2 separate regions of the Homo sapiens genome follow, and region 2 is linked to region 1. A link means that fine-mapping ties the variant in region 1 to the expression of a gene that starts in the linked region. Tissue or cell type: whole blood. Region 1 holds a variant in brackets; the other region holds the start of a gene. All regions are shown on one strand. Distances are between the middles of the regions.

What was found. PIP is the estimated chance that this variant, and not a neighbour inherited with it, causes the effect.
Region 2: ZNF558 starts here. The variant in region 1 is fine-mapped to the expression of ZNF558 in whole blood (TOPMed, PIP above 0.99).

Annotation. Positions count from the first base shown.
Region 1 is chr19:8,846,097-8,862,241 of GRCh38, reverse strand. It overlaps MUC16 (mucin 16, cell surface associated), which reads left to right. Exons shown (of 94, transcript NM_001414686.1): 88 at 1,094-1,242; 89 at 3,491-3,642; 90 at 3,971-4,038; 91 at 6,102-6,268; 92 at 10,523-10,564; 93 at 10,887-10,966; 94 at 13,212-13,398. The coding sequence ends at 13,310. Among named protein-coding and RNA genes, the nearest start is that of MBD3L1, 22 kb to the right of the region's middle. The variant A/G (reference allele first, on the strand shown) is at 7,960.
Region 2 is chr19:8,825,384-8,841,528 of GRCh38, reverse strand. It overlaps ZNF558 (zinc finger protein 558), which reads left to right and starts at 9,225. Exons shown (of 10, transcript NM_144693.3): 1 at 9,225-9,320; 2 at 10,128-10,211. MBD3L1 (methyl-CpG binding domain protein 3 like 1) reads right to left here and starts at 9,152. Exons shown (of 3, transcript NM_001393532.1): 1 at 9,007-9,152; 2 at 530-614. RefSeq lists silencers at 8,416-8,675, 9,176-9,445.

The DNA of each region.
Region 1 (16,145 bases):
ACTGTACATTTTAAAATATAACTAAAGGTGTATGCTTGGATTGTTTGCAACACAAAGGATATATGCTTGAGGGGATGGATACCCCATTTACCCTGATGATTATTATGCATTACATGCTTGTATCAAAACATCTCATATACCCCATAAATATAAAAACACCTACTATGTACCCCAAAAAATTAAAAACAAATAAAATCAAAAGTAGGCTGGGCACAGTGGCTCATGCCTGTAATCCCAGCACTTTGGGAGGCCAGGGCAGGTGGATCTCTTGAGCCCAGAAGTTCAAGACCAGCGAGGGCAACATAGGGAGTCCTAGTCTCTACAAAAAATACAAAAATTAGCCAGGCATGGTGGCACACACCTGTAGTCCCAGCCACTCAGGAAGCTGAGGTGGGAGGATCGCCTGAGCCTAGGAGGCTGTACTCCAGCCTGGGTGACAGAGCGAGACTCTATCTCAAAAAATAAAATAAAATAATAAAAAGTAGAAATCAAGAGGGAAAATGTGGGAGAAATTGGGATAATTTTAACAATACCTTCCACCAGAGTGATGATGAAGAATGCATAAGTCACTTCTTAGTGGTCTTGATCTATAAAAAGTGTTCAATAAATATCGATTATTGTTACTGTTATTGCTTCTAGACGTAATTCCTGGAAGCATTTTTTTTTTTTTTTTTTTTGAGATGGAGTCATGCTCTGTTGCTCAGGCTGGAGTGCAGTGGTATGATCTCGGCTCACTACAACTGCCTCCTGGGTTCAAGCAATTCTCCTGCCTCAGCCCCCCATGTAGCAGGGACTACAGGCATGCGCCACCACACCCGGTGAAGTTTTGTATTTTTATTAGAGACAGGGTTTTGCCATGTTGGTCAGGCTGGTCTCGAACTCCTGACCTCAGGCAATTTGCCTGCCTCGGCCTCCCAAAGTGCTGAGATTACAGGCTTGGGCCACTGCATCCAGCCGAAGGCCTCCCATTTTGATCAGAACCCTTCTCTAGACTGAGGGTGGGTGCCTCTAGATCTTTTGCTCTTTAAAGACAGCAACCGATGACCCTGCTGATGCTGAGTACTGGCTGAATTCCTGTGGTCTCTGTCCCTAGGATGGACTCCGTGTTGGTCACTGTCAAGGCATTGTTCTCCTCCAATTTGGACCCCAGCCTGGTGGAGCAAGTCTTTCTAGATAAGACCCTGAATGCCTCATTCCATTGGCTGGGCTCCACCTACCAGTTGGTGGACATCCATGTGACAGGTACAAGGTGGGGTGGCTGGTTTCCTAACTGGAAGAGGTGGGGTTATGAGGAAAGATGGGGCTTCTCGGTACCAGTGGAATTGGTGGAGGCTCTAGAGAGGGAAAGGGAGGCTTTCTGGAGACCCATGTAGGTGACCTCTGGCAGTAGATCATCCAACGAGGCAGGAACAGAACACCAGCCATTGCATCTAAGAGAATAGCTATTTTTACATGTAAAAAGAATTGTGTTGAATGAATGAATCAATAGATCATTTATTTTGAATCAATTTATTGATTCATTCATTTAATTAATGAATAATAAATGATTCAGTACATAATTGATTAATTGATGTAATTGAGAATTGATTTAATTGATTAATTGATCAATTAAAATGATCAATTAAATGAATGAATCAGTAAATGAATAATTCATTCATTCAATAAACAATGGAAGTAGGCCGGGCATGGTGGCTCACGCCTGTAATACCAGTACTTTGGGAGGCCCAGGCAGGCAGATCACGAGGTCAGGAGATTGAGACCATCCTGGCTAACACGGTGAAACCCTGTCTCTACTAAAAATACAAAAAAAATTAGCCAGGCATGGTGGTGGCCACCTGTAGTCGCAGCTACTCGGGAGGCTGAGGCAGGAGAATGGCGTGAACCCGGGAGGCAGAGCTTGCAGTGAGCCGAGATCGCGCCACTGCACTCCAGCCTGGGCGACAGATGGAGACTCTGTCTCAAAAATAAATAAATAAATAAAAATAAAAAATAAATAAACAATGGAAGTAAACACGTACTGATAACACAGTGTGATCATTGCTATGATAAGGGAATTTCAGGGGCCTGTGGGAGCCCCAAGGAGGAACACACAACCTTGTCTTGGAAAGTTTTATGTAGGAAGGGGTGAAGAAGCTGAGATCTGACAGAGAATGGGACCTAGCCAGGGGTAATAGATGGAGAATTGTGCTCCATGCATCTATAACCTAGAAGATAGAAAGAATATGGCATCTGGCCGGGTGCGGTGGCTCACGCCTGTAGTCCCAGCACTTTCAGAGGCTGAGATGGGTGGATCACCTGAGGTCAGGAGTTCAAGACCAGCCTGACCAATATGATGAAACCCCATCTCTGCTAAAAATACAAAAATTAGCCAGGCATGGTGGTGCGTGCCTGTAATCCCAGCCACTTGGGAGGCTGAGAGAGGAGAACTGCTTGAACTCGGGAGGCGGAGGTTGCAGTGAGCCGAGATTGTGCCATTGCACTCAAGCCTGGGCAAAAAGAGCAAAACTGCATTTCAAAAAAAAAAAAAGTGGCATTTTGGGGCAAGTTTAAGAAGATTGGTGTAGCTGGAGCATCCACTTTGATACTGGAGAGGTGACAGTTGAAGCCAAAGATGTGGGCAGAGACTTTGTTGGGCACTGGAATGGCTTGGGGAGGAACATGACACACTCATGAGTTCTGCTTTAGAAAGAAAATGAAATGAATTCTGCTCATCCTCTGGGTGCTGTGTGCAGAATGGAGGGTGGGGGGAGAGAAGAGCAAAGGCAAGAAGACCCTTTAGGAACAATGATCATTAGTTAGAAGACTCTGGGTTTCTCAGCACCTGCAATTGCTGACTACACCCCCAGAGAAACCCAGTCTCTTTTCCCCCATGTTGTAGAGAATTCTTACAATGCTTGGTAGAAAGAGAATTGAACAGGTAGATGGGTGGATGGATACAAGCTGGACAGATGGATGGAGGAAGATCCTCCATCCAATATAGAGCTGTTACCTAAAACCCTCCATCCCACCTTTAAAATCCTAGCTCAGCCAGGCGCGGTGGCTCACACCTGTAATCCCAGCACTTTGGGAGGCCAAGGCGGGTGGATCACCTGAGGTCGGGGGTTCGAGACCAGTCTGACCAACATGGAGAAACCCTGTCTCTATTAAAAATACAAAAAAAAAAAAAAGTTAGCCAGGCAGGGTGGCGCATGCCTGTAATCCCGCTACTCGGGAGGCTGAGGCAGGAGAATGGCTTGCACCCAGGAGGTGGAGGTTGTGGTGAGCCAAGATCACGCCATTACACTCCAGCCTGGGCAAAGAGAGTGAAACTGTCTCAAAAAACAAAACAAATGACCCCCCTGCCAAAAAAAAAAAAAAAAAAAAAGAAAAGAAAAAAAGAAAAGCCTAGCTCAGCTCACACTGTCAGGAATAAGTAAGCTAGCTGGAATCATCTCTTTCTTAAAACCCTGCCTTGATAGTGGATTTTTACATACTTTTTTTTTAATTCTAGAAATGGAGTCATCAGTTTATCAACCAACAAGCAGCTCCAGCACCCAGCACTTCTACCTGAATTTCACCATCACCAACCTACCATATTCCCAGGACAAAGCCCAGCCAGGCACCACCAATTACCAGAGGAACAAAAGGAATATTGAGGATGCGGTGAGAAGGGGGTGGTATGTCCACTCTGTTGCCATGCAGAAACTGACTTATGCATACTGGGTAGCCACAGGGTGACTTTTTATAACAATCCACAAAGACAGGTTCTTATTCCCATTTAATACACAAGCACAGAGAGGTTCAGTAGCTGACCCAAGGTCACACAGCTAAGTCATACCCTAGAAGAGCATGTCCTTTGATATACATACCTGGGCAAGTGGTTGTCATGACAAGAAGCAAAATAGACGGAGAAGTGTGCTCAGTGGCTGAAAATTCTCTGATGCTACTGGGGCCAGGATTCTGACCTAAGAAACATCGCCCTGTCTTTCAGCTCAACCAACTCTTCCGAAACAGCAGCATCAAGAGTTATTTTTCTGACTGTCAAGTTTCAACATTCAGGTAAGTTCTAACTCAGGACCTAATGACTCTAGGAACTTCTGCTGTCCTTTAAATAGAAGTGTCCCCAAGCCATAGCTTTGATGGAAGAGAGCCCTAGAAATAGAGAGCTGTTAACTAAAAACTAGCTTTTTCCTAAAGCTGGAGCCCAACTGGCTTCAACACTCAAGAGAGCTGGTGTAAATCTCAGCAGACATAAAGGTACCTGGTGCTGAGGCCATGGAGTCTAGAGTGTAGAATCTACTACATTAAGACATCAGCTACTGAAATCAGGACCCATGGAAGACGGGGGAAGGAGGGGACTAAAACCAGATTACTTAGAATCTAGCAGCCTAACTGTGCTTTTCAATGAGAGGTATCATTTCCAATGGTGGGGGGTACCAATGATTTTTTTTTTTTGACAACTGCCTTGAGAACAGGCTTTCCTCACTAAACAAATTCTGAATCAGAACAAATAAAGATAAGCCCTGAGAATAGGGCTTTTTCAAGGAGCTGCCAAACAGATCAAATAGTGACTATGTTCTGCAGATTGATGTCTGGAGAACTCTACAGCTATTTTGACTGCTAGGCAGCTGGTTTTCACAGATATCATGATTCTGAGGCTGCCAGTTTTCAAAGTTACCGAGGATCTTGCTGGATGCAGTGGCTTGCGACTGTAATCCCAGCCCTTTGGGAGGCCAAGGTGGGTAGATCGCTTGAGCTCAGGAGTTTGAGACCAGCCTGGGCAATATGGTGAAAACCCATCTCTACAAAAAATACAAAAATCAGCTGAGCATAGTGGCATGTGCTGTAGTCCCAGTTACTTAGGAGGCTGAGGTGGGAGGATGGCTTGAGCCCAGGAGGCAGAGGTTGCAGTGAGCTGACATTGTGCCATGCACTCTAGCCTGGGCAACAGAGCCAAAGCCTGTCTCAAAAAAAAAAAAACAAATAATAATAATAATAAAATACTGAGGATCTTGAAAGAGCACTGTGGAAATAATGCAAGTTAAAATGCCACAAAGCTTGCTCTTTTTACTGAGATTTAACACTTTCCTTAACTAAACACCCCTCGAATTTTTGCAAGCCTTTGGTTCACTTCTAGACTTCTGGAAAAATTGATTTGGACTATTTTGGCCAATGTTCTCATTGATTTTATGGGTATTCAGAAGTTGTTACCCCAACATTCCAGAAATGTTCTCCCTGTGGCTATTACTTTATTTATTTATTTATTTATTTATTTATTTATTTATTTGAGACGGAGTCTCCCTCTGTTGCCCAGGCTGGAGTGCAGTGGCGCAATCTCAGCTCACTGCAACCTCCGCTTCCCAGGTTCAAGCGATTCTCCTGCCTCAGCCTCCCAAGTAGCTGGGATTATGGATGTGCACCACCACACCGGCTAATTTTTGTGTTTTTAGTAGAGATGGGGTTTCACTGTGTTGGCCAGGCTGGTCTCGAACTCCTGATCTCAAGTGATCCACCCGCCTTGGCCTCCCAAAGTGCTGGGATAACAGGCATGAGCCACTGTGCCTGACCTCCCTGTGGCTATTTTTAAATGAATTAAGTGGAATAAAATTAGAAATTCAGTTCTTCTCCCACGCTAGCTGCATTTTAAGCATTTAATAACAACATGAAGCTACTAATGGCTGCATTGTGTAGTGCAGATGTAGAATTTTTTTTTTGTTTTTTGTTTTGTTTTTGAGATGGAGTCTCGCTCTGTCACCAGGCTAGAGTGCAGTGGCGTGATCTCGTCTCACTGCAATCTCTACTCCCCGATTCAAGTGATTCTCCTGCCTCAGCCTCCCAAGTAGCTGGGATTACAGGCACGTGCCACCACACCCAGCTAATATTTGTATGGATGGTCTCAATCTCCTGACCTCGTGATTTGTATGGATGGTCTCGATCTGACCTCATGATCCGCCTGCCTGGGCCTCCCAAAGTGCTGGGATTACAGGCGTGAGCCACTGTGCCCGGCCGACATAGAATGTTTACATCATTGCAGAAAGTTTCTGCAGGAAGAGCCTAGAAGGAGAAAGCCTAGAATCATGATAAAATTGCAGATATCTTTGCTTATCCCTGTCCCCTTCCAGGTCTGTCCCCAACAGGCACCACACCGGGGTGGACTCCCTGTGTAACTTCTCGCCACTGGCTCGGAGAGTAGACAGAGTTGCCATCTATGAGGAATTTCTGCGGATGACCCGGAATGGTACCCAGCTGCAGAACTTCACCCTGGACAGGAGCAGTGTCCTTGTGGATGGTAAAGCTCCCTGGGTCATTGGGACTGAGGTGGAAGCTCCCACTTCCTCACCTGGGTCCTTCCCTGGGAATCTGAAGGCTTGGGGTTGATTCGTCATCGAGCTTTCTCAGACTGGGAGAAAGTGGCTTAGTTCTCCTAAGCTTTACCCATCATTGAAGGAAAGAAAAGGACGCCCGAGGGATATGGGAGGCATTTGCCCTCTTCTGGCCAGCTCTGTGACCTCAGGCTAGTCACATCTCCTTTCTGGACTTCTTATCTCTCTGTACTTAGCAAGCCACTTGGTTTTTGGTTCCCATCTTGCCTGCCCTAGATGGTATTGCTCCTCCACCCCCAGGCAGCTGCAGTGTTAAACAATTACCCTGATTAGTTATTGTTGTTGTGTTGTTTGTTTGTTTTTGAGACAGGGTCTCACTCTGTCACCTAGGCTGGAGTGCAGTGACATGATCTCAGCTCACTGCAACCTCAACCCCTGGACTCAAGCAATCCACCCACTTCAGCCTCCCAAGTAACTGGGACTACAGCCATGCGCCACCACACCCGGATAATTTTTGTATTTTTTCTAGAGATGGGGTTTTGCAACATTGCCCAGGCTGGTCTTGAACTCCTGAGCTCAAGCATGCCACCTGCTTCAGCCTCCCAAAGTGCTGGGATTACAGGCAGGCAGGCACCACTGCAGCTGGTTCTGGTTTTTTGTGTTTGTTTTTTTCTTTTAGAGGCAGGGTCTCGCTCTGTTAACCAGAATGGAGTACAGTGGTGCAATCATAGCTCACTGCAGTCTTGAACTCCTGGGCTCAAGCGATCCTCCCACCTCAGCCTCCTGAGTACCTGGAACTACAGGCACGTGTCACCACGCCTTGCTAATTTCTAAATTTTTTGTAGAGACAGGGTCTCACTATGTTGCCCAGACTGGTCTCTAATTCCTGGCCACAAGTGATCCTCCTGCCTCAGCAGGTCAATGAGGGCTTCCAGTTTCAAGTTGTATGTGATTCATCCTCAACAAATGTGGTAGGATGGACCTATTTTCCAACTCCAGAGATGGCTTCAAGGTGGCTCAACTTTGCATATCCAATTTTACCCATTCAAAGAATAGTTATATACATTGTACCATGTATCAGGAATATAACAGAGAGTAACTGTTTGCTCTTTCACCACTATATTCCAAGAACCCCATATTCTGCCTGGCACATAATAAACACTCAAGTCATATTTGCAGAAGGAATAACTAGATTTCATACAAGGTTCTTTTCAAGTCAAATGCGAATAACGTTTTAGACGGGACCTTCCAATGCCTGTGTGCACTGTCCTTGATTCCGAATTATTGTTGTGCAAGAGAGCACTGTTGATCCTTCAGAATCAACAAGCCTTTCACATGCCTGTCACAGGTTTTTCTTTTTCTTGTTTTACCAATTTTGTTTGTTGTTTGTTTGTTGTTATTGTTTTGTTTTGTTTTTGTTTTTTATTTGTTTTTATTTTTTCTTTTTTTTTGAGACAGAGTCTCGCTCTGTCACCCAGGCTGGAGTGCAGTGGCACGATCTCCGCCCACTGCAAGCTCCGCCTCCTGGGTTCATGCCATTTTCCTGCCTCAGCCTCCTGAGTAGCTGGGACTACAGGCGCCTGCCACCATGTCTGGCTAATTTTTTTTGTATTTTTAGTAGAAACAGGGTTTCACCATGTTGACCAGGATGGTCTCG[A/G]TCTCCTGACCTCGTGATCTGCCCACCTGGGCCTCCCAAAGTGCTGGGATTACAGGCGTGAGCCACCACACCCAGCCCCAATTTTTTTTTTAATTAAAATTGTTGTCAGCTCACAAGCTTTCTAAAAACAGGCCATGGACCCAGCATCGCTGTAGTTTGCCAAACCTTGCCTTGAATCAGTACCATCCAATAGAACTTTCTGCAGTGATAGAAAATGTTTCTATCTGTGCTATTCAGCACAAAGCCATGTGTGATTACTAAGCTTGAAGTGTGGTTAATGTAACTGAGATACCGAAGTTTTAATTTTATTTAATTTTAATTTAAAAAGCCACTTGTGGCTGCTCCATATTGCACACTACTTTTTAAAATTATTATTTGTATATATTTAAGGGGCACAAGTACAATTTTGTTGCATGGATTTATAGCCCAGTGGGGAAGTCTGGGCTTTTAGGGTATCTATTACCTGAATAATGTACATTGTACCCATTGAGTAATTTCTCATCATCCACTCTCCTCCACTCCCCAACCCTTCCAAGTTTCCACTGTCTATTATTCCACTCTCTATGTCCATGCCTATGCATTATTTAGCATTGACATGTCTATGCATTATTTAGTCAAATACATGTGCTATTTGACTTCCTGTATCTGAGTTGTTTGACTTAAGATAATGACCTTCACTTGCATCCATGTTGCTGCAAAAGACATGATTTCATTCTTTTTTATGCCTGGGTGGTATTGCATTGTGTGTGTGTGTGTGTGTGTGTGTGTAGAGAGAGAGAGAGATCACATTTTCTTTATACAGTCCTCCATTGATGGGCACTTAGGTTGATTCCATATCTTTGCTATTGTGAATAGTTTTGTGATAAACACACAGGTTCAGGTGTCTTTTTGACAAAATTATTTATTTTCCTTTGTGTAGATACCCAGTCGTGGGATTCCTGGATCAAATGGTAGTTTCATTTTTAGTTATTTGAGAAATCTCCACGTTTTTCATAGAGATTATACTAAATTACATTCCCACCAACAGTGTGTAACGGTTCACTTTTCTTGCATCCTTTTTAACATCTGTTATTTTTTGTCTTTTTAGTAACAGCCATTCTGACTGGCGTAAGGTGGTATCTCATCATGGTTTTAATCTGTATTTCTCTGATTATTAGTAATGTCGAGCATTTTTTCATATGCTTGTTAGCCATTGGTATGTCTTCTACATCTTTAAGAAGCTGGCTATGGGCTGGGCGCAGTGGCTCACACCTGTAATCCCAGCACTTTGGGAGGCCGAGGCAGGCGGATCACGAGGTCAGGAGTTAAAAACCAGCCTGGCCAACATGGTAAAACCCTGCCTCTACTAAAAATACAAAAAATTACCCAGGCATGGTGGTGCGCCTGTAATCCCAGCTACTCAGGAAGCTGAGGCAGGAGAATCACTTGAACCCAGGAGGCGGAGGTTGCAGTGAGACGAGATCACATCATTGCACTCCAGCCTGGGTGACAGAGTGAGACTCTATCTTGAGAAAAAAAAAAAGTTGGCTATAACAGGGTTGTAGAAGTAGAGGAACCAGTAACCCTTCTCGCCATGCCTGATGATGGCTTTACATCCCTGTCTTCATGGAGTTTATGCTGTCGTGAGGAATAACAAGAACAGGCAGTTGTCAATTATAAATTATTTGATGTGAACCTATTCATACATGGGTGTGGTCATCAGGGAAGGCTTCCTGGAGGAAATGACATTGAAGGTGAATTCTAAAAGATGACGATAAAACCACCAAGTGAAGGAGAGCTTAAATGTGTTTTTAGGCAGAAGAAAAACCTTTTGGGTGAAAATTTTAAAACTTAGAGAGGTCCCATCAGTTTCCAACTGCGATGATCCATTCTCTCCACCACTGCCCTTGGGCCCAGCCCAATTTAGGTCCACCATGCCCAGAGGCATGAATTTAACTTATGACACTCTTGTGGTGGAATAATGGCTTTGGGCTTATGTAGCCATGTGTCATTTTTTTAGAGATACAAATTGAAATATTTGGGGTGAGATGTCATGGTGTCTACTGGCCTCTAAAACTTCAGTGAAAACATTTACTTTCACTGAAATGTCAATAAATCATAAATTGGATGTATATGTTTTAGTTGGAGGAAATATAAACCACTAAATCTAGGTGATGCATATTTATTATACTCTTCTCTCTGCTTTTTTGTACGCTTGTAAAATTGTATTTAAAAGAATAAGACACACTTGGCCGGGCGCGGTGGCTCACGCCTGTAATCCCAGCACTTTGGGAGACCGAGGTGGGTGGATCATGAGGTCAGGAGTTCAAGACCAGCCTGGCCAACATGGTAAAACTCCATCACTACATACAAAAATTAGCCAGGCATTTTGGCGGGCACCTGTAATCTCAGCTACTTGGGAGGCTGAAGCAGGAGAATTGCTTGAACCCGGGAAGCAGAGGTTGCAGTGAGCCAAGATCACGCCACTGCACTCTAGCCTGGGCAACAGAGCAAGACTCCATCTCCAGAAAAAAAAAAAAAAAAAGACACACTCACATGCACCCTCCATTTCTTTCATTTCTAGGGTATTCTCCCAACAGAAATGAGCCCTTAACTGGGAATTCTGGTAAGTCTCAAAGAAGCCCCAGCCCAGGGTAGGGAGGGGGTAGCCTGATGGTGCTTTGCCTTGTCCAAGAGCACCAGGCACACAGAGTCTTGGATGAGGATCAAAATTGCCAACCCATGGCAAAGACTATTGAGGCATAGTAAAGGGATAGCAGGGATCCTGGCTTTCTGGGGGCCCAGTTTTTGGGGGCATCAGAGGCATGAGGTGTTGAGCCACTAAGCTCTCTTCCCCAGGGCTGTGCCCATCCTCAGGCCACATAGGGTCCAAGAAGGAGCCCTGGGACGTGGCAGGAGGTGGCTCACCCCAGCCCTTGTCTCCCCAGACCTTCCCTTCTGGGCTGTCATCCTCATCGGCTTGGCAGGACTCCTGGGAGTCATCACATGCCTGATCTGCGGTGTCCTGGTGAGCAAGGAAGGGTTGCTTGTCTTCTTAACAATTGGGTTGTAAGAGTTCTTAATATATTATAAAACCATACTATACTATACACAAGTCCTTTGCTGGATATATGTTTTGCAAATATTTTCTCCCAGTTCACGGAGTGGCTTTCCTATTTTCTTTTTATAATTTTATTTTTAATTAATTGACAAATAATGAATGCATATATTTAGGGGATACAATGTGATGCTTTGGTATATGTACAATTATGGAATGACTCAATCAAGCTAATTAATATGTCCCTCACCTCTCATACTTATTATTTCTTTGTGGTGTGAACATTGGCAACCTATACTCTTAGCAATTTTGAAATCTACATTATTATTAACTATAGTTACTATGTTATGCAGATCTCAAAAACTTCACAACCTATATGCTGATTACAAGATATTGAGAGAAAAAGTGATTGCAAAGAGTGTAAATAAAATAATGTAAGAGGGAAAAATGTAACAAAATTAGTCGTTAGGGAAATGTACACGGAAGTCACAATGAGAGGCCACTTTTCACAAGAATGGATAAAATTGAAAAGATTGACTATAACAAGTGTTGGTGAAAATGTGACAGAACTGGAACTCTCATAAAGTGAAAGTGGAAAATAGCTTGGCCATTTCTTTGAAAATTACACACACCTACCGTAAGACCCTACCATCCCACTACTAGTAATTTATCTAAGAGAAATAAAAACATATGTCTATATGAAGACTTGTACACAAGTAAATGTTCATAACAGCTTTGTTTGTAATAGCCAAACTCTGAAAACAACCCTAATGTCCATTAACAAATATATCCTGACAATGGAATATTATTCAGCAACAAAAAGGAATTATTAATACATTAATAAATTATACAGCAACATGTATAAATTGCAAAATAGTTATGCCTAGTGAAAGAATCCAGATGAAGAAAAGAGTACATGCCATATGATTCCCTTAATAGACAAATTCTAGAAAATACAAACTAATCTGTAAGGACAGGAATCAGATCAGCGGTTGCCTGGGAATGAAAATGTGTTTGCAGTGGCAGGGAAAAAGGAATTGTAAAAGAGCAGGAAGAAAGTTTTTTTGTTGTTTTTTTTTTGTTTTTTCTTGAGACAGAGTCTTAGTCTATCGCCCAAGCTGGAGTGCAATGGCACGATCTCAGCTCATTGCAACCTCTGCCTCTCGGGTTCAAGCGTTTTTCCTGCCCCAGCCTCCCAAGTAGCTGGGATTACACATGCGCACCACCACACTCAGCTAATTTTTGTATTTTTAGTAGAGACGGGGTTTTACCATGTTGGCCAGGCTGGTCTCGAACTCCTGACCTCAGGTGATCCACCCGCCTTGGCCTCCCAAAGTGCTGGGATTACAGGAGTGAGCCACCATGCCTGGCCAGGACGAAAGTTTTGGGGATGATGGATGGATGTTCCTTATGTTGATTGTGGTGACGATTCAATAAGTTATGATCAGAACTTATCAAAACATTCACTTTAAATGTGTGCAGTTTATTTTATGTCAGTTATGCCTCAGTTAAGCTGGACAGATGTAGAGGAGGAAGGGAGGGAGAGAGGGGGCTGAGATCAGGACCAAAAGCCAGAGAGAAAGAGACTGAGAATGAGATGAGAGAGAAATGGTATTTAGACAGAAGACAGGCGATAGATGATTGATAGTTGACAGATGATTGGTGGATAGCTGATAGGTAGATGATAAATAGATTATTTTGATAGATAATTGGTAGATAATAAATTGATAGGTAACAGATAGTTGATAGATATTGATAAGTAGATGATAAATACATGATTGATGGATGACAGGTGATTGATAGATGATTGATGGATTATAAATAGGAGATGATTGAGAGGTGAGAGATAATTGATGGTTATTGATTGGTAGATAATTGATTGACAGGTTGATAAATATTGATAGCTAGATGATAGATAAATAGATCATTGGTAGATATGTGATATATTGATAAAGAAATTCAGAGGCAAAAGGAGAGAGAAATGAAGGGGATATCGGAGGGGGAAAAATTTTTTTAAACCGAGAGTGAAACAAGGAGACAGAAGAAAAGAAAGTGGTGAAAAGAGGAAAAGAACTGAGGGAGAAATTAAATGAAACAATGAAGGGAGACAGAGGAAGCATAAGGCCTCTGGCTTTGGCCATATTCTCACCCCTGTGGTCTCCTCTCCCTGGACGGCTGACCAGTCCATTCTCACGCCTCCTCCTCACCCTCATAGGTGACCACCCGCCGGCGGAAGAAGGAAGGAGAATACAACGTCCAGCAACAGTGCCCAGGCTACTACCAGTCACACCTAGACCTGGAGGATCTGCAATGACTGGAACTTGCCGGTGCCTGGGGTGCCTTTCCCCCAGCCAGGGTCCAAAGAAGCTTGGCTGGGGCAGAAATAAACCATATTGGTCGGACACAGTCTCTGAGCCTTCCTTGACGTGACCCCTGACTGGTTCATGTTGGACTAAGAGAACAGTCTTCCACCTTCGTGAAGTCCCAAAGGCAACTCTCAGTTGTGTGTTGTGGTTTCGCACCATGTCATCCCTTGGGAACACCAGAATTGGTGAAAATGATTGTATTAGGCTGTTCTTGCACTGTGATAAAGAAATACCTGGCCGGGCGCAGTGGCTCACACCTATAATCCCAGCACTTTGGGAGGCCCAGGCGGGTGGATCACTTGAGGTCAGGAGTTCAAGACCGGAGCCTGGCCAACTTGGTGAAACCCTGTCTCTACTAAAAATACAATAATTAGCCAGGCATGGTGGTCCACGCCTGTAATGCCAGCTACTTGGGAGGCTGAGACAGGAGAATCACTTGAACCCAGGAAGCAGAGGTTGCAGTGAGCCAAGATCACGCCACTGCACTCCAGCCTGAGTGACAGAGCGAGACTCTGTCTCAAAAAAAGAACAAGAGAAAAAAAAAAAATACCTGGCCAGGCTCGGTGGCTCACGCCTGTAATCCTAGCACTATGGGAGGCCTAGGCAGGCAGGTTGCTTGAGTCCAAGAGCTCGAGACCAGCCTGGGAAACATGGCAAAATGCTGTCTCTACAAAGATTTTTAAAAATAGCCAGGCATGGTGGTGCGTGCCTGTAGTCCCAGCTACCCAGGAGGCAGAGGTGGGAGTATCACCTGAGCCTGGGAGGTTGAGGCTGCAGTGAACTGTGATTGTACCACTGCACTCCACCCTGAATGACAGAGTGAGATCCTGTCTCAAAAAAAAAAAAAAAAAAAAAAAAAAAAAAAACAAAGAAAAAAGAAATACCTGAGACTGGGTAATTTTTAAAGAAAAGAGGTTTAATTGGCTCACAGTTCTGCAGGCTGTACAGGAAGCATGATGTCAGCATCTGATCAGCTTCTGGAGAGGTCTCAGGAAGCTTCCAATCATGGTGAAGGCCAAGGGAGGGCCAGCATGTCACAAGAGAGGGCCAGCATGTCACATGGCCAGAGCAGGAGCAAGGGAGAGTTGGGGGGAGCAAAGGTGCCACACACTTAACCAGATCTCACAAGTACAGACTCCCTGTTGCAAAGGCAGCATCAAACCATGAAGGATCTGCCCCTATGACCCAAGCACCGCCTACCAGGCTCCACCTCCAACACTGGGGATTACAATTCAACATCAGATTTGGTGGGGACACATATCCAAACTACATTACTGATGATATGGACAGGAGACAGGGAAATACTGGGTAGAAGAGGGAGGTTCCCCAGCAAAGGCCCCACCCTCAAGCCTGGAGACCTGTGGCCCTAAATGGGAACAGACAATCCTGTTTTCATGCCCCAAAGTCACCTTTTGGCCCACCATGCTCCCCTATCCTATACCCATATAAACCTCAAACCCCAGGCTCCACAAGCAGAAGAATGGCAGAACGACACAGCAGAGAGAAGAGAAGGAGCATCTGAATGCCGAAAGGAGTTCAACTGGGGACAGTCAGAGAGGAGACTAGCCACTGGACAGCCAAACTCCAGGGGAAGATCATCTTCCCACTCCATCCCCCTTCTAGCTCCCCATCCATCCCACTGAGAACCACCTCCCCCATTCAACAAAACCCTGGCATTCATCCTTCAAGTCTATGTGTGACCTGATTCTTCCTGGATGCTGGACAAGGACTTGGGTACCAAGAGGGCACTGAGCTGGTTAACACTTGAGCCATCCACAGACAGCAAGGCTAAGGAGCACACTGTAACACACAGCCACTTGGGCTTTGGGAGTTGCAGTCTCCCACCTGTGGATGCTGCCATGGGGCCAGAGCCCAGGGACACTGGCCCCGGCTCCTGCACCTGCCTGTCTGTGTGCTCCCCGTCCCATAAGGGGTTTGAGTGCACCCAGCAGCCAAACAGATGAGCCACACCCCTGTCACATGTCCTGCAAGGGAGCTCAGGGAATCCTCCTGTTTCACTGATACAGAAATTGCCATCATGGAGGCTGGGCACGGTGGCTCACACCTGTAATCCCAGCACTTTGGGAGACCAAGACAGGTGGATCACCTGAAGTCAGGAGTTCAAGAACAGCCTGACCAACATAATGAAACCCAACTCCACTAAAAATACAAAAAAATTAGCTGGGTTTAGTGGTGGGTGCCTGTAATCCCAGCTACTCGGGAGGCTGAGGCAGGAGAATCACTTGAATCTGAGAGGTGGAGGTTGCAGTGAGCTAAGATCGCGCCATTGCACTCCAGCCTGGGCGACAGAGCAAGACTCCATCTCAAAAAAAGAAAAAAGAAATTGCCATGGTGGAAAATCAACATTCCACTTCAGTGTAAGGTCTCCCACCTTTGTCACTCAGTACACACCCACCCTTGACTCCTATACCAGCCATCACACCCATCCTGTTCCTTTATATTCCCACATCCCTGCCCCCAAGAAACCCTGGCAGTTGCAAGTTTCTCTTCCACTATTTCATTCTCTGAAACTCAAATGCACCAGAATTTCCAGATTAGTGTTCCCTGGGTGGCATATTATCCATCTCACGGGTCCTCTACAATGGGAAGTAGACCAAGAAGACATAAACGGGTCAGAAATGGTTCTATGGGCCAGGCACAGTAGCTCAAACCTGTAATCCCAGCATGTTGGGAGACCACGGTAGGAGGATCGCTTGAGGCCAGGAGTTAGAGACCAGCCTTGGCAACATAATGAGACCCCCATCTCTACTAAAAGAAAAAAA
Region 2 (16,145 bases), 21 kb after region 1:
TTCTGATTTCCAGGTTTTTTAATTCAAATGCCCATACCATAGATACCTGTTCTTGATGAACATACCTTGAGGAGCAAGTATCTGTGATTTGGGTATTTGAATTACTCCGGACCTCCGTATCTTCACCTTCCTCTCTCTCCTCTGATTCCTAGCACTCTTGGATTCTGTGGTCTGCGACCTCAATATTTCCCTTAGAGGCCGGGCACGGTGGCTCCACGCCTGTAATCTCAGCACTTTGGGAGGCCGAGGTGGGTGGATCACTTGAGGCCAGGAGTTCAAGACCAGGCTGGCCAACATGGTGAAACCCCATCTCTACCAAAAAAAAAAAAAAAGAATTAGCTGGGTGTGGTGGCGCACACCTGTAGTCCCAGCTACTCGGAAGGCTGAGGTGGGAGAATCACTTGAACCCAGGAGGTGGAGGTTGCAGTGAGCAGAGATCACATCATTGCACTCCAGCCTGAGCAACAGAATGAGACCCTGTCTAAAAAAAAAAAAAAAAATTCATTTAGATTAATCCAAAATTCCTTACCACTTATCACACCTGCCTTGTAAAACTTCAAACTTGGAAGGTCCCTGTTCTCTGTGACGCCATGGCTACCACCGTCATATGATCACTGCTGAAAAAAGAATCACGTGACATGACGTCTTAGTGCCACTATAAATACAAAATATTCTCCATCAACTGGGAAGAATCCATCATGCGTAGAAACTTTATTTTCTGTGTATGCACTGTCATGTTTACTCCTTGATTTTCCCCAAAACCTGTTGCAAAATTTTCTCCAGCTTTCTTTTTTCCTCATAGATATTTAATTCTCCTTAACTTACCTGATGGTTCCCAAAGACGTTAGTTGCCAAATCTGCAAATATCCCTGATAAGCATTGAATGTTTCCAAATTTCCTTTAATTGTATTTAAAGAGATTTCCTGCCAGGCATGGTGGCTCACACATCTAATCCCAGCACTTTGGTAGGCTGAGGCGGGAGGGCCACTTGAACACAGGAGTTTGAGACCAGTCAGGGCAACGTAGGGGGACCCCCATCTCTACTAAAAATTAAAAAGTTAGCTGGGGGTGATGATACATGTCTGAGGTCCCAGCTGAGTGAGGGAGGCCGAGTGAAGAGGATAGCTTGAGCCCAGGAGGTCGAGGTTGCAGTGAGCGGCAATCAGGCCACTGTACTCTAGCCTTGGCAACAGAGCAAGACCTTGTCTCATAAATACATAAATATGTTTCCTTTATCCACCAAGAGTGATCTGAGCCTCATTCCTTCTTCCTTTTTGTTAATTTTATGCTTCCAATATTGCAATGTAACCTTTGTATCATCTGTTTTTGTTTTTTTTTTTTTTTTGAGACGGAGTCCCGCTCTATAGCCCAGACTGGAGTACAGTGGGATGATCTGGGCTCACTGCAACCTCCACTGCCCGGGTTCAAGCAATTATCTTGCCTCAGCCTCCCAAGTAGCTGGGATTACAGGCACATACCTCTATGTCCAGCTAATTTTTTGGTATTTTTAGTAGCGATGGGGTTTCGCCATGTTGGCCAGAGTGGCCTCGAACTCCTGACCTCATGATCTGCCCGCCTCAACCTCCCAAAGTGCTGGGATTACAGATGCCCCCATATCTTTAACTTCTGTTTTTCTACTGAATCCCTTCTTCGGCATTTAAACATGTTCAAGTTTCTCCGAGCTACACAGACACTCCTCTCCTAAACTTCCTGGGACCCCCTCCTTCACCACTACTGCCTATCCCTTCCCCTTAGCTATGAACCACTGAGAAAAGATCATCTACATCTATGTCTCCTATCTCCTCACCTCCAGCAACTCCTCAGGCCACCCCAAACTTCTGTTTTCCTTCACCGTTCTCAGCTGCTTCTGTTGCTAAGGCCACAATGACCCCTTTGTTGTTAGATCCCAAAGGAATTCTCATTATTCATCTGACATGACTCTTGAAGTGGAAAGCTTTGAAGTATGCTTGGAACAACCTGGACATGTGAATCTTACTTTACAGCTGTGAACCCTAGAAAATCTAAATATGGCCAGGCACGGTGGCTCACACCTGTAATCCCAGCACTTTGGGAGGCCGAGGCGGGCAGATCATGAGGTCAGGAGATTGAGACCATCCTAGCTAACACAGTGAAACCCCATCTCTACTAAAAATACAAAATATTAGCCATAATATTAATACAGGTGGGTGTGGTGGCACACACCTGTATCCCAGCTACTCAGGAGGCTGAGGCAGGAGAATGGCGTGAACCTGGGAGGCGGAGCTTGCAGTGAGCCGAGATGGCGCCACTGCACTCCAGCCTGGGCGACAGTGCGAGACTCTGTCTCAAAAAAAAAAAAAAAAAGAAAAGAAAAGAAAAAAAAGAAAATCTAAATACGGGGCAAGTACATCTGATAACATTCAACTCGCAAATTGAGATGTGCCATCAGTGGAAAGTACGAACTGGATTTCTGGAACTCATTACAAAAAACAAAAATCATTTAAAAGGTCTCATGTGGAGTCCTAATAAGATAAGTAACCAACAACAAGGAAAGGGCCCCTGGTTGGGGGAGAACAATTGTTCTGAGAGATGGCTAACTGCAAACAACCCACTGGCATGACATTCTGTTCCAAAAGACCTCGGTCTGCACATAGTCCCAGGAACACGACCTTATCTGCACACCTCACGTGCACATAGCCGCCTCCAGCACGACCCTATAAAATCCCCTCCAACCTCTGCCTCTTTGCAAATGGCCCCTTCTCTTCTGTGCTGCCTGTTGCATCCTTGCAACCTATCTTCATATCTTCTCTAATAAATCTGTCTTTCTTTACCTACGACTGTCTTGGGAAATTATTTTACCACCAACAATGCCAGCCCCAGCCAGTCGCACCTAAAACGTCTCAATAATTTTTACATTGATTGCATGCACACATGAGAATATGTTGGCCATCGCAGGTTAAAATAGACTTTTAGAATTCATTGTGTGTGGCATGCCATCTGTGGCTGAGGTGCTATATTGGTGCTTATCTAGGAGTTATCACCAGACAGCCTGTGTTCTGTGCATGCTTGGTTGTTTGCAGAGTTGCATAGCCTTCAAAACATTTACTATCTCAATATATCCATGTCCTCGGGAGAGGGTTAGGCAATATGCAGTTTGTTTCCATGGGACATCTCCATCCTTAGCAATTCCTTTGGGGATTATTTGACATCTGTCATTTCCACAGGTGGCCTTGCCCTGGAGGAAGGTGATAGTGGGGCTGCTGATCTTTTTTTTTTTTTTTTTTTTTTTTTTTTTTTGAGATGGAGTCTTGCTCTGTCGTCCAGGCTGGAGTGCAGTGCAGTGATGCGATCTCGGCTCACTGCAACCTCTGCCTCCTGGGTTCAAGCGATTCTCCTGCCTCAGCCTCCTGAGTAGCTGGGACTACAGGTGTGCACCACCACGCCCAGCTTATTTTTTGTATTTTTAGTAGAGACGGGGTTTCACCATGTTATCCAGGATGGTCTCAATCTCTTGATGTCATGATCCGCCCGCCTCGGCCTCCCAAAGTGCTGGGATTACAGGCGTGAGCCACCGTGCCTGGCCAGGGCTGCTGATCTTCTGGGTAGAATTTCAGCCTTGCTGTCTCCTGTGTATAAGGAACTCTGCCTGCTCCATCTTGGTCCCTTCCAGTTGTTTCACTTCAAGTTTCTTTACCTCCTTCTCTTCCTTACTAACCAAAATATGGAATGAAATATTTAGTAGCAATTATTTTATGCGTCATCTGGTTAGGTGGAAGCTACTAGTTGTTTTTACTCTAGCAGAATTAAGGTAGCCGGAAGTGACTATCAGAGTATAAAGTATCCTCAGATCTCAGGTACTCTGTGGGAAAGCAAGAACTTGTCTTGTCCATGAGGCCAGTGTGAAGGGTGAGGGTCTTTATCCCTGTCACAAGGCTTGAGGCAAAACTTTGCACTCTGCCTTCTGCCCTCCAGCCAGAGAAGTTTCTAGCCACCCCCATTCGAGGCAGAAAGGGTCCAGGCATTAAGTGGTTGTCGAGCCCTGGAATTTTATATTCCTAGACTTTGTGGGTTACAACATGGATACACACTGCCGACTTCATTCTGCAGCCAGCTTCTCACATCTAACAATATATCCCGATTGTAATTTAATATAACTAAATGTACATTGACATTGTTGTTTTAAGGCCCATGAATGTCATTTCATACGGCTACACCAGTACTTATTTTGCCATTGTTACTAATCTTCTGTCATATTAAATAGGAGGTAGATGATCAATCCTTTTTAACAAGGTTCAAACATTTCTCTGATTTAGATCACTGTAAAATTGCTGGGTTGATAAATATGCACATTCGTACAGCTTTGGGTATATGTTACCAAGTACCTGCTGAGAAACTGGTACTTATCAATGCTGCTAGCAGAGGGCGAGGTCATTCATTTCTTCATGTCTTGACAAACTGGCCATTTAAAATGTTTTGCATTACTTGAGAGGCACAAACATAATGCCATTATTTTAATTTATGCCTCTTTGCTAATTAGAGTATTGGGCAGTTGTATGTATTTGTAAAGGAGTGTGTGGTTCATAGCCTTTGTCTTTGATGATGTTTTTACTGGCTTGTTCATCTTTTGCTTATTTATCCAAAATATTCTTTATGTAATAATGATATGAGCCCACATGTCATAGATTTTTACAATTATTTATCCCCAGTTTGTTTTGCCATTTAATAATGTGATGGTGTGGAAAATTAAGATACACTTAAGCTGGATACGATGGGGTCATGCCTAAAATCCCAGCACTTTGGGCAGCCAAGGCAAAGGGATTGCTTGCGCTCAGGAGTTCGAGACTAGCCTCTGTGGTGTGGCGAGTCCCTGTCTCTATAAAAAATACAAAAACTAGCTGGGCGTGGTGGTGCACGCCTGCAGTCCCAGCTACTCGGGAAGCTGAGGAGGGAGAATGACTTGAGCCCAGGAGGTCGAGGCTGCAATGAGCCATGTTTGCACCACTGCACTCCAGCCTGGGTGACAAAGCAAGATCCTGTCTCCAAAAAAAAAGAAAAAAGAAGAAAGAAGGAGGAGGAGAGGGGGGGAGGAGGAGGAAAAGGAAGAGAAGAAGGAGGAGGAGGAAAGAAGAAAGAAGAAGGAGGAGGACAAGGAGGAGGAGGAAGGGGAGGAGTAAGGAAGAAGGAAGAAAGGAGGAGGAGGAAGAGGAAGAAGAGAAGAACTCACATTTTTGTAGTATTTTACTTTTTCCACTTTTCTTCTATTATTTTGAGGAAGAAGCACTCATATTTATGTAGTATTTTATTTTTCCACTTTTATTCTCTTATTATGCCTAACTGAAGAATTTATGTGTATAATTCTACATTTTTTAAATAAAAACTTTATTGAGCTACCATAATATTCAACCTTTTAAAGTGTACAGTTTTTACACTTTTGTGTAAAATGGTTTTTAGTACATTCACACAGTTGCGCAATCGTCACCACTATCTAATCTTATTTTCATCTAAAATGAAATCCATACCATTACCCACTTCCCCTCATTTCCCTTTTCCCCAACATTTGCCACTAATCTATTGTCTCTTTGGATTTTCTTATTCTGGAAATTTTATTTAAATTGAATTATACAAAATGTGGGTTTTTTATGAGTGGCTTCTTTTACTTACCGTAATGTTTTCAAGGTTCATCCATGGAATATGTATTCTGTTTAATGGATGAATAATAATCCGTTGTGTGGATATACCACATTTTATTTATCCATTCATCAGTTGACTGATATTTGGGACATACAAAATTTTGGGCTATTATGTATAATGCTGCTATGAACATTCATGTACAAGCTGTCATGTGAACACATGTTTTCATTTCTCTTGGGCATATACTGGAAATAAAATTGCTGGGTCACGTGGCAACTCTATGACTTTTTGAGGAACTGCCAAACTATTTTGCAAAGTGGGTGCACCATTTTACAATCCTGACAGCAATGTATAAGAATTCCAATTTCTCCTTGTCTTTGCCAATCTTTGTTATTGGCTATCTTTTTAATTTTAATTATCCCAATGGGTGTGAAGTAGTATTTTATTGAAGTTTTGATATTAACTTCCCTAATGATTAATGGGGCCGAGCATCTTTTCATGTATATATTTGCCATTTGTGTATCTTCTTTGTAGAAATGACGATTCGAACTCTTTGTTCATTTTTCAGGCTGGGTGCAGTGGCTCACACCTGTAATCCCAGCACTTAGGGAGGCCAAGGTGGGCAGATCACTTGAGGTCAGGAGTTCAAGACCAGCCTGGCCAACATGGCAAAACCCTCTCTCTGCTAAAAATACAAAAATTAGCCAGGCGTGGTGGTGAACGCCTGTGGTCCCAGCTACTTGGGAGGCTGAGGCAGGAGAATCGCTTGAATCCAGGAGGCAGAGGATGCAGTGAGCCAAAATGGTGCCACAGCACTCCAGCCTAGGTGACAGAAGGAGACTCCACCTCAAAAAGAAAAAAAAAAAAAAACTCTTTGTTCACTTTTAATTGGGTATCTTTTTATTGCTGAGTCGCAAGCCTTTATATATTTTGAATACAAGTCATGTATCAGATAAATCATTTGTAAATGTCTTCACCCAGTCCATGTTTGTCTTTTTTCTTGATGGTGTCCTTTGAAGCATCAATGTTTTTTAATGTTAAGTCCAATTTATATATTTTTTCTTTCGCCACCTGTTTTTGATGTCATATCTAAGAAACAATTGCCTAACCCAAGATCACAAAGTTTGACACCTATGTTTTCTTCCAAGAAGTTTATAGTTTTAGCTCTTACCTTTAGGTCTATGATCTATTTTGAGCTCACTTTTGTACATGGTGTGAAGTAGAGGTCCAATTTCATTCTCTGTTTTTTGTTTGTTTCTTGGTTGGTTGGTTTTTTTTTTGTTTTTTTTTGGTTTTGGTTTGTTTTTTTTTTTTGATGGAGTCTCGCTCTGTTCTCAGGCTGGAGTGCAGTGGGGTGATCTCGGCTCACTGCAATCTCCACCTCCTGGGTTCAAACGATTCTTCTGCCTCAGTCTCCCGAGTAGCTGGGACTATAGGCGCCCGCCACCACGCCCAGCTAATTTTGGTATTTTTAGTAGAGACGGGGTTTCACCATGTTAGCCAGGATGGTCTCGATATCTTGACCTCGTGATCTGCCTGCCTCAGCCTCCCAAAGTGCTGGGGTTACAGGCGTGAGCCACCACGCCCAGCCCAATTTCATTCTTTTGTATATTGGCATCTAGTTGTCCCAGCACAATTTGTTGAAGAGAACAGTCTTTCCACAGTGAACTTTCCTAGTATATTGAATTTTGAACTTGTTCATTTTTGCTTAAACTTCCTTCAGCCACCTGAAAATGGATATTTTTGGGAAGCAGAGATCTAACTATTTTTTTCTGAAAGGACGGGTGCATGAAACAATATCATTCATTGAAAGTATTTCTTCCTGGCTGATTTTAAATGTTACCACTCTCTTACATAAAATTTTTTCCCTTTGCACTTACCAGTATCTTTTTTTGTTTATGGTTTTTGGTTTTTGTTTTGTTTTGTTTTTTGAGATGGAGTCTTGCTCGTCACCCGGGCTGGAGTGCACCGGCTGCAATCTCGGCTCACTTCAACCTCCACCTCCCGAGTTCAAGCTATTCTCCTGCCTCAGCCTCCCAAGTACCTGGGATTACAAGGCATCCGCCACCACGCCCGGCTAATTTTGTATTTTTAGTAGAGACGGGGTTTCACCATGTTGGCAGGCTGGTCTCGAACTCCTGACCTCAGGTGATCTGCCTGCCTCGGCCTCCCAAAGTGTTGGGATTACAAGCGTAAGCCACCAGGTCCAACCAGCACTTAGTGGTATCTAACGCACCAACCCACCATGTATTCTATTTATCACATTCACTGTCCATTTCTCCTGCCCAACTCACAACTAAAATGCACGTTCTCTGAGGGCAAGGACGTTTACCTATTTTGTTCAGTCTATATCCATGGTGTATAAAACAGAGACTTGTTGGGGGGGAGGTAATAGCATTTATTCCATGAATATGACTACGGCATACACACATACACACACATACATGTCCACACTATATCTGGAAAGATAGAGGAGAAAATTATTTTTGCCTCTGAGCAAAAGAACTGAAAGACCGTGGTGGGAGAATATTTGACTGACTTTGTACCATTCTTAAGTTTTCCTATATGTGTATCTATGACCCAGTCCTCTCCTGCTCCCCTAAACTCTTAGTGTTAAATCACTATGTTCTGCCTTGGGAAAGCAAGTTATAGACAAATGTGCATACATAATCTGATCCTATTGGGTTGTATGAACATGGGGCAGTAACTGTATCAACAATCTAGGGATCCAAGGAAGGCCCTACCCCTGAATCTGATCTCCCACAATCCTGGCTCCTGGGCCTATCCCAACCCACCCACATCATACACCCTTTTATTCATACCCAGATCCCTGCCCCTGGAACTGGTCTCCACCCACTGCCCCCTCCCCAGGCCTGGTGCAGCCCACAGTCCCGCCCCCAGAACTGGTCTCCGCCCACAGTCAGCCCCGCCCCCAGGCTTGCTGCCACCCCATAGCTCCGCCCCTAGAACTGCTCTCTGCCAATCACCACTGCCCTCCAAGACCGGTACACCCACAGCCTAGTCCCCGCCCTCCGCCCGGCCCGGAGCTTATCTCCGCCCACAGCCAGCCCCAACCTCCAGGGCTGTCACAACCACAGCCTGGTTCCCGCTCAGCCCCGCCCCGGAAATGGAGGTCTCCACCCCTGTAACTGGTCTCTGCTCAGTCATCCCCGCTCTAGAAGCCTTATACCATCCGCCCCGAGAACTGGGCCCCACCCACAGCCCCGACCCTGGAACTGGTCTCTGCCCAATCAGCCTCGCCCTCCAGGCCTGGTACGGCCTCAGCCGGTTCCCCGCCTTCAGCCCCGCCCCGGAACTGATCTCCGCCCACAACCAGCCCCGCCCCCAGGCCTCGTGCGGCTCACAGCCTGGCCCCGCCCCCAGGGCCAACCTTACCCCCGCTACTGCCCCAGGCCAGGGCCCAACTTTGTGCCCACTAAGCAAACTAGAACACCTCTGCCCAAGGCTGGGGTTCGCGGCCGCCGCTCCCGCCCGCCGCGCCTGTCGCCTAAGCGCCGAACCCCCAACACGCTCGACTCTGCGAGGCTGCCCGCGCGAGCCGGAAGGGGACGTGCAGCGCACCTCTCCCCAGACCGGAAGCGGAAGCGCGGGGCGGTACCGTGGGAGGGGCCGCGCGTGGGGCAGCGGGGAGCGAGTCCCTCCGTCCCCGCGAGTCGGCGCTTTTGGCCCCGCGGGAGGGGCCGGGCTCGGTGAGCGACTGGCGGGGGCTCGGGTCCGAGTCCAGGGGGCGACGTGGGCCGCGGACACCGCCAGCCACGGGCCCTGCGTCCCTCCAGGGAGCCGTGTTTCGGTTCATGAGGCCTCGGGCTGTGAGCTTAGGTCAGCACGAAGCTGCTGCTTGCTCCTGGGTCGGGGCCCCGCGCCGCTGTTGCCTCCTCAGGGAACCCCAGTCGCCCTCACCCGGGGCGATTCCGCACCCCAGGGGACTTTTGGCTGTAGCTGGAGACGACTGTGGTTTTCACAAATTGTGGGGAGGGGAGGCTGCTACTGTCACCTAGAGGGTGGAGGCCGGGGAAGAGGGACGCTGCTTGCTCTTAAAGATCCTACGTTGTACAGGACAGTCCCCCACAACAAAGAATTATCAGTAGTGCCAGGTTGGGAAACCCTGCTCTAGGGCCTTAAAAAAAAAATCTCTGCAGTTCTGAATAAACTACATAAATTGTTAAAAATTCAGTTTAGTCACTTAATAGGGCCTCTAAGTGACAAGATATTTTTAAAGCCTGTGGAGTCACCATAGAATCTCTCTCCAGCGTAGTAAGTTGAGCAAGTCAAATGCACACAGCGTTAAGCTGCTTTCTCCCCTCTTACGGAGCAGATGGCCAGATGGGAATCAGGTAAAGCCAGTCATGGCCCACAGGCTGGGCCCTTATTACACATTTAATCATTGAGTACCCAAAAAAAGTGAATGGGATGGTGTTTCCGGCAGCCGTATCCAACAACTGTACAACCTATACAAAGCCTCGAAAGAAATCTTTGTGTCTTTTTTTTTTTTTCAGATGAGAAAAGCATCATTCAAGCTCAGATTCGTGTTGAAGCCTGCCACAAGGTCCACCTGTTGTTGTGGGTTTTTGGGTGACCAGGTGAGTACAGTGTGGAACCTACAACAAGGTTTCAGCAGGCTCTGCTGTGTAGAAGAACTCCTCGTGGGCTTTTCCTGTGCTGGGGTTGTAACCACATTGAAGTCACTAAGAGTGAAGGTATCTTAAGGAAAGTTCAAGGTAAAAAGACAGAGGTGTTTATGGTTACATGTGTGTAAATAAGTAAATACAGTTACATGCAAATAAGTATCCACAAAACAAACATACAAATAACGTAAAGATGTGTAACTGTAGCTAAAGACAGATTTTCTGGTATGCCGTAATGCTAAAAGTTTCTGAATTTTATATAAGTATAGAAAATATTTACATGTATATGTAGTGTTACAAGTCTTCCCACTAACAACTAGCAGGACTACTTAGCAACATTTTTCAGGCCTGTTTGATTTGACTTTTTTTTTTTTTCTTGAGACCAAGTCTCACTCTGTTGGCCAGGTTGGAGTGCAGTGGCGCGATCTTGGCTCATGTCAACCTCCACCTCCCAGACTCAAGCAAATCTCCTGCCTCAGTTTCCTGAGTAGCTGGGACTACAGGCAAGTGCCACCACGCCCAGCTAATTTTGTTTGTATTTTTAGTAGAGACAGGTTTTTGCCATGTTGGCCAGGCTGGTCTTTAACTCCTGACCTCAAGTGGTCCGCCCACCTCAGCCTCCCAAAGTGCTGGGATTACAGGCAAGAGCCACCGCACCCAGCTGTTGATTTGATTTCTAAAGGCATATTGGCCCTCCACCAAACTTCAAAATATAAGGGCATTTGTAAAAAGGATGATTTATTAGTAACAAATTTAAAATTAAATTGACCGGCGACCAGATGTGTTTTGAGTAATGGGATTTTTTTTTTCCTAATGAGATTTGAAAACATTTGGAAGAATATTAAGCAACAACTTATAGATTGAAGGGTAGGGAACTGGTTTCCAAAAAGATTGTCCTCTGCACCTTGCCTCCTGTATTAGTCCTTTTTCACACTGCTATAAAGAACTACCTGAGAGTTTTCACACTGCTATAAATAACTCCCTGAGACTGAGTGACTTACAAAGGAAAGAAGTTTAATTGACTCAGTTCTGCATGGCGGGGGAGGCCTCAGGAAACTTACGATCATGGCAGAAAGCAAAGGGAAAGCAAGGCACGTCTTACATGGCAGCAGGAGAGAGAGAGAAGACATAAACGCCAAACTTCTAAACCATCAGATCTTGTGGGAACTTACTATCAGGAGAACAGCAAGGGGGAAGTCCGCCCCCATGATTCAGTCACCTCCTACCAGGACCCTCCTCTGACACATAGGGATTATTACAACTCGAGATGAGATTTGGGTGGGGGGACACAGAGCCAACGATATCACCTCCTAATAGGAATTAACTTTGTTTCTTAAAACTTCTCTGAAATAACAGTATGGTGATTCATATTGCAGAGAATCATGTTAAGTAATCTAGTATTAAATTGTGGGGTTTCTACTAATTGTGTGTGTGTTCACCTTTTCCATTCTAGCTTTCCTACAGCATTCTTGAAGGAATGTTTACTTATCATGCAATAGATATTATTTGAGTGCACAGTTAATGGTGACCAACCATCCTCATTTTTTCAGGACCAAGGGGTTTGCTAGGGCACAGGGCATCCAGTGTTCAAACCGGGACAATCCTTGGCAAACCAGGTCGCCTCCATGAGTCAGGTCCTAGGTCAGATGCACAGGGACCCTGGAGGACCTGAAATGGCCCCTGTCCTACATAAAGTTTACCTTCTAACAGGGAAGATAAATTTTAAACCATGAATGACAGGAGTGATGTGGGAGCTTGGCACTAGTGAACTTGATCAGAGGGAACAGGGAAGCTTTCTTGGGAAGGATATTTAGCTTGAGAGCTTAAGTTGTTACAGAACCAAACTGGGGTCTGCTCACCTGGTGGTGCAGTGAAACCAGATGTCTATATTGAGGGTTGCTACGATAGATAGAAAGGCTTTTATTGCACAGCACTAAGCAAGGAGGACCAGACATTAAATGTTCAAATCCTGGCCTCCCCAGTGGCTTTTAGGCAAGGAATTTTTTTTTTTTTGAGATGGAGTCTCACTCTGTTACCCAGGCTGGAGTACTGTGTTGCAATCTCAGCTCACTGCAACCCCCGGCCTCCCGGGTTCAAGCAGTTCTGCCGCAGCCTCCTGAGTAGCTGGGATTACAGGCGCCTACCACCATGCCCGGTTAATTTTTGTATTTTCAGTAGAGACGGGGTTTCACCATGTTGGCCCGGCTGGTCTTAATCTCCTGACTTCGTGATCCACCCGCCTCAGCCTCCCAAAGTGCTGAGATGATACAGGCATGAGCCACCACACCCGGCCTTTTTTTTTTTTTTAATGAGACAGAATCTCACTTGGTCACCCAGGCTGGAGTGCAATGGCACGATCTCAGCTCACTGCAACGTCTGCCTCCCAGGTTCAAGTGATTTTCCTGCCTCAGCCTCCCCAGTCCCTAGGATTACAGGCACATACCACCACACCTGGCAAATTTTTTGTATTTTGAGTAGAGACAGAGTTTCACCATGTTAGCCAGGTTGGCCTCAAACTCCTGACCTCAGGTGATCCGCCTGCCTAGGCCTCCCAAAGTGCTGGGATTACAGACATGAGCCACCGTGCCCGGCTAGGCAAGGATTTCTGAAGGCAATGGTAAGTTACAGAAAAGCAGAAGCTACAGGCAAAATCATAAAGCAATACATGGAGGTTACACACTGGTTTAGACTTAAAAGGGCAAGGATGTCTTGAAGCAGGAGCTTGTCATAGGTAGATTCAAAGATTTTTCTGATTTGTAATTGGTTAAAGAAAAGAAGCTTTGTTTAAAAATTTAGAGTCAGTAGGAAAATGTTAACTGGCTGGGAGAAGTGACTTTCTCCAAGCCCCTCAAGAAGAAACTTAGCACAAAGAACGCTGAAGCTCAGCCTTCATGTCCCGCTTATCTGGGGTCTCTGAGCCAGCAGCTCCATTTGGTGGGGTCCTCAGTGGGAGTCCCAGCCTCTGAAAGGCAACTCAGGGACGCATGTTAAGATGTTATCTTTAGTTTCCATGGGGAAAGCGAACATCTCTGGAGCCTTAACTTCTTTGGCTGTTGTTTTAGGTTACTATTACCTTCCTGTTTAACAAGTTCCATATTTACTTTTGGGGCTAGCTGGATGCTCGGAATTTCCCTTAAAGGAACTTCAGGATTTTCCTTTATTTTCCCACTTGGGGTTCACAGGCCCCTGAAAAAGGGAATTGCTGCTCCATCTCCAAGTTGGGGTCAGATGTAGCTAGTCATAGGGCTCGACTAGAGTGAGGGGACAGGGTTATGTCCAAGAGAGCACTGCCGTCGAAGAAGCTGTGTAAGGAAAGGCCCTGCAGCAGGAGAGAGGCTGCCACGCTCCCTGCACTGGGAACACAGGGATGGCTGAAGCCGAGACAAGAACAGGGAAAGAAGCTGGGCGCAGTGGCTCACACCTGTAATCCCAGCACTTTAGGAGACCAAGGTGGGCTGATCACCTGATGTCAGAAGTTCAAGACCAGCCTGGCCAACATGGTGAAACCCCGTCTCTACTAAAAATACGAAAATTAGCTGGGTGTGGTGGTGCACACCTGTAGTCCCAGCTGCTCGGGAGGCTGAGACAAGAGAATTGCTTGAACCTGGGAGGCTGAGGTTGCAGTGAGCAGAGATTGCACCACTGCATTCAGCCTGGGTGTAAGAGTGAGACTCCTCAAAAAAAAAAAAAAAAAAAAAAAAGAATAGGGAAAGAAGTGTGACCAAGACCAAGATCAAGAGGGAGGCAGAACCATACTAGGCCTCACTTCAGACTCTGTTCTCAGGCCAGTGGGAAGACACTAAAGAGTTGTGGGCCAGAGGGTGATGCAATTTGCATGTAGTGTAAGCATGCAGATAACAAGGACTTCAGGATTCAGAAGGAAGACATTTAAGAGGCAAAAGAGGGGGTGTTTGGAGGTAGTTTAGGAATCAGATGATTGCTCCCAAAAAAAATAAAATTTATTTTCTCAGCCATACTAGTCACATTTCAAGTATTAGAGCAGAATTATAGAACATTTCCATCATCACCAGAAGTTGTGTTGGGCAGCTGACATAGAGTGGCCCATCTGCTGTGACCATCCTCCAGCACTGTATCCAGGGCAGGGCAGGTGTCACAGGATCTGTAAACTGAAGAGACCCCTCCTGTCCTAGTGGGAAATTTCTGCTTCCAGACAGCCTTGAATAGGGACTTGGGGCCTGAAAATGTCCCAGGTACCTTCTCTACTTGTTTTTTTCTTGGAGGCCCAGTGAGCTGGCTGGAGGCCAACCCCCCCTCACTCCCCAGCTCAGTGACTGGAACTACTGTGTGCCTACCTGCACATTAGGTCTGTTACGGGGAAAAAGGAGATACTTCCCCCTGTAGAGGGTAGGGAAGTTCTGCAGCAGTTGCCTGGGTCTGCTGAACTCACCCAAAGGGAAGGTGTGATGTGAAAGGCATGTTAGTTTCCTATTGATGCTATAACAAACTACCACAAATTCAGGGACTTAAAACAACACACATTTATCCTCTTGCCTTGCTGGAGGTCAGAAATCCTCAATAAGCTGGAAGGCCTGCATTCCCTCTAGAGCAGGAGTCCCCAGCCCCTGGGCCACGGACCAGTGCTTATAAACAGGGCTGCACAGCAAGATGTGAGTGGCAGGTGAGCGAAGCTTCATCTGTATTTACAGCCACTCCTCATTGCTCGCATTACCACCTGAGCTCCACCTCCTGGCCGATCAGTGGCAGCATTCGATTCTCATAGGAGCCCAAACCCTATTGTGAACTTTGCATGTGAGGGATCTGGATTGCACACTCCTTAGGAGAATCTAATTCCTGATGATCTGTTGCTGTCTCCCATCACCCCCAGATGGGACCATCTAGTTGCAGGAAAACAAGCTCAGGGCTCCCACTGACTCTATATTATGGTGAGTCGTATAATTATTTCATTATATATTACTGTGTAATATAATAGAAATAAAGTGCAGAATAAATGTAATGTGCTTATAAAACATCATCCTGAAACCATTCCCTGCCCAGCCCCACTGCCGCCCCGTGCTCCATGGAAAAATTGTCTTCCACGAAACCAGTCCCTGGTACCAGAAAGGTTGGGGACCACTGCTCTAGAGGCTCTAGGGGAGAACCCATTTCCTGCGTTTTTCATCTTGTAGAGGCCACCAGCCTTCCCTGACTGTGGCTTGTTCCTCCATCATCAACACCAGCAGGGCAGCATCTTCCAGTCTCTCTGTATGTTATCTCCTCCCTGCTACACACACGCTCCCTTCTTCTCTCATCTCATCCCATCCTTCTTTGAACTGACCCTCCTGTTTCCCTTTTATAAGGACCCCTGTAATCACAGTGGGCCCACCCAGCATCATCCCCCATGTCAGGATCCTTGCCTTCCTCACAGCTGCAGAATCCCTTTTGCCATGTAAGGGAGTAGATCCAGAGGTTCTGGGGATTAGAACACAGACCCCTTTCTTGGGAGAGCAGGAAGTTAATCATCTGTCTACCACAGAGGCCCAAGAGCCAAAGACTCCCTCCAACTTGATTTTTTGACGGAACCCGAACTCACCCTGAATGTCCAGTGCCCCCATCCCTGCCCATTCACACCCTTCACTCCTTTTATCTTTTGGGTTCATGTCATGGAGGTCACACATGGAAACCTCCAGAAGCTGGCTTTATGGAGTTACGTTTTATTCTATAAATCTGGAGAAAGGAGGCTTTCTCGTCTTATAAAAAGGACACATGACATTGCTTTGTACCTTGATTTTTTTTTCACTTAAATTTATTGGAGATAATCTCTCTGAATACCTAGAAATCTTTTCAGGGGTTCTTTGTTTTGGTTTTGGTTTGGGGTTTTTTTTTCCTGGCTACATGTTTCTTTGTTATTTATTAAGTTGCTGCAAAAGT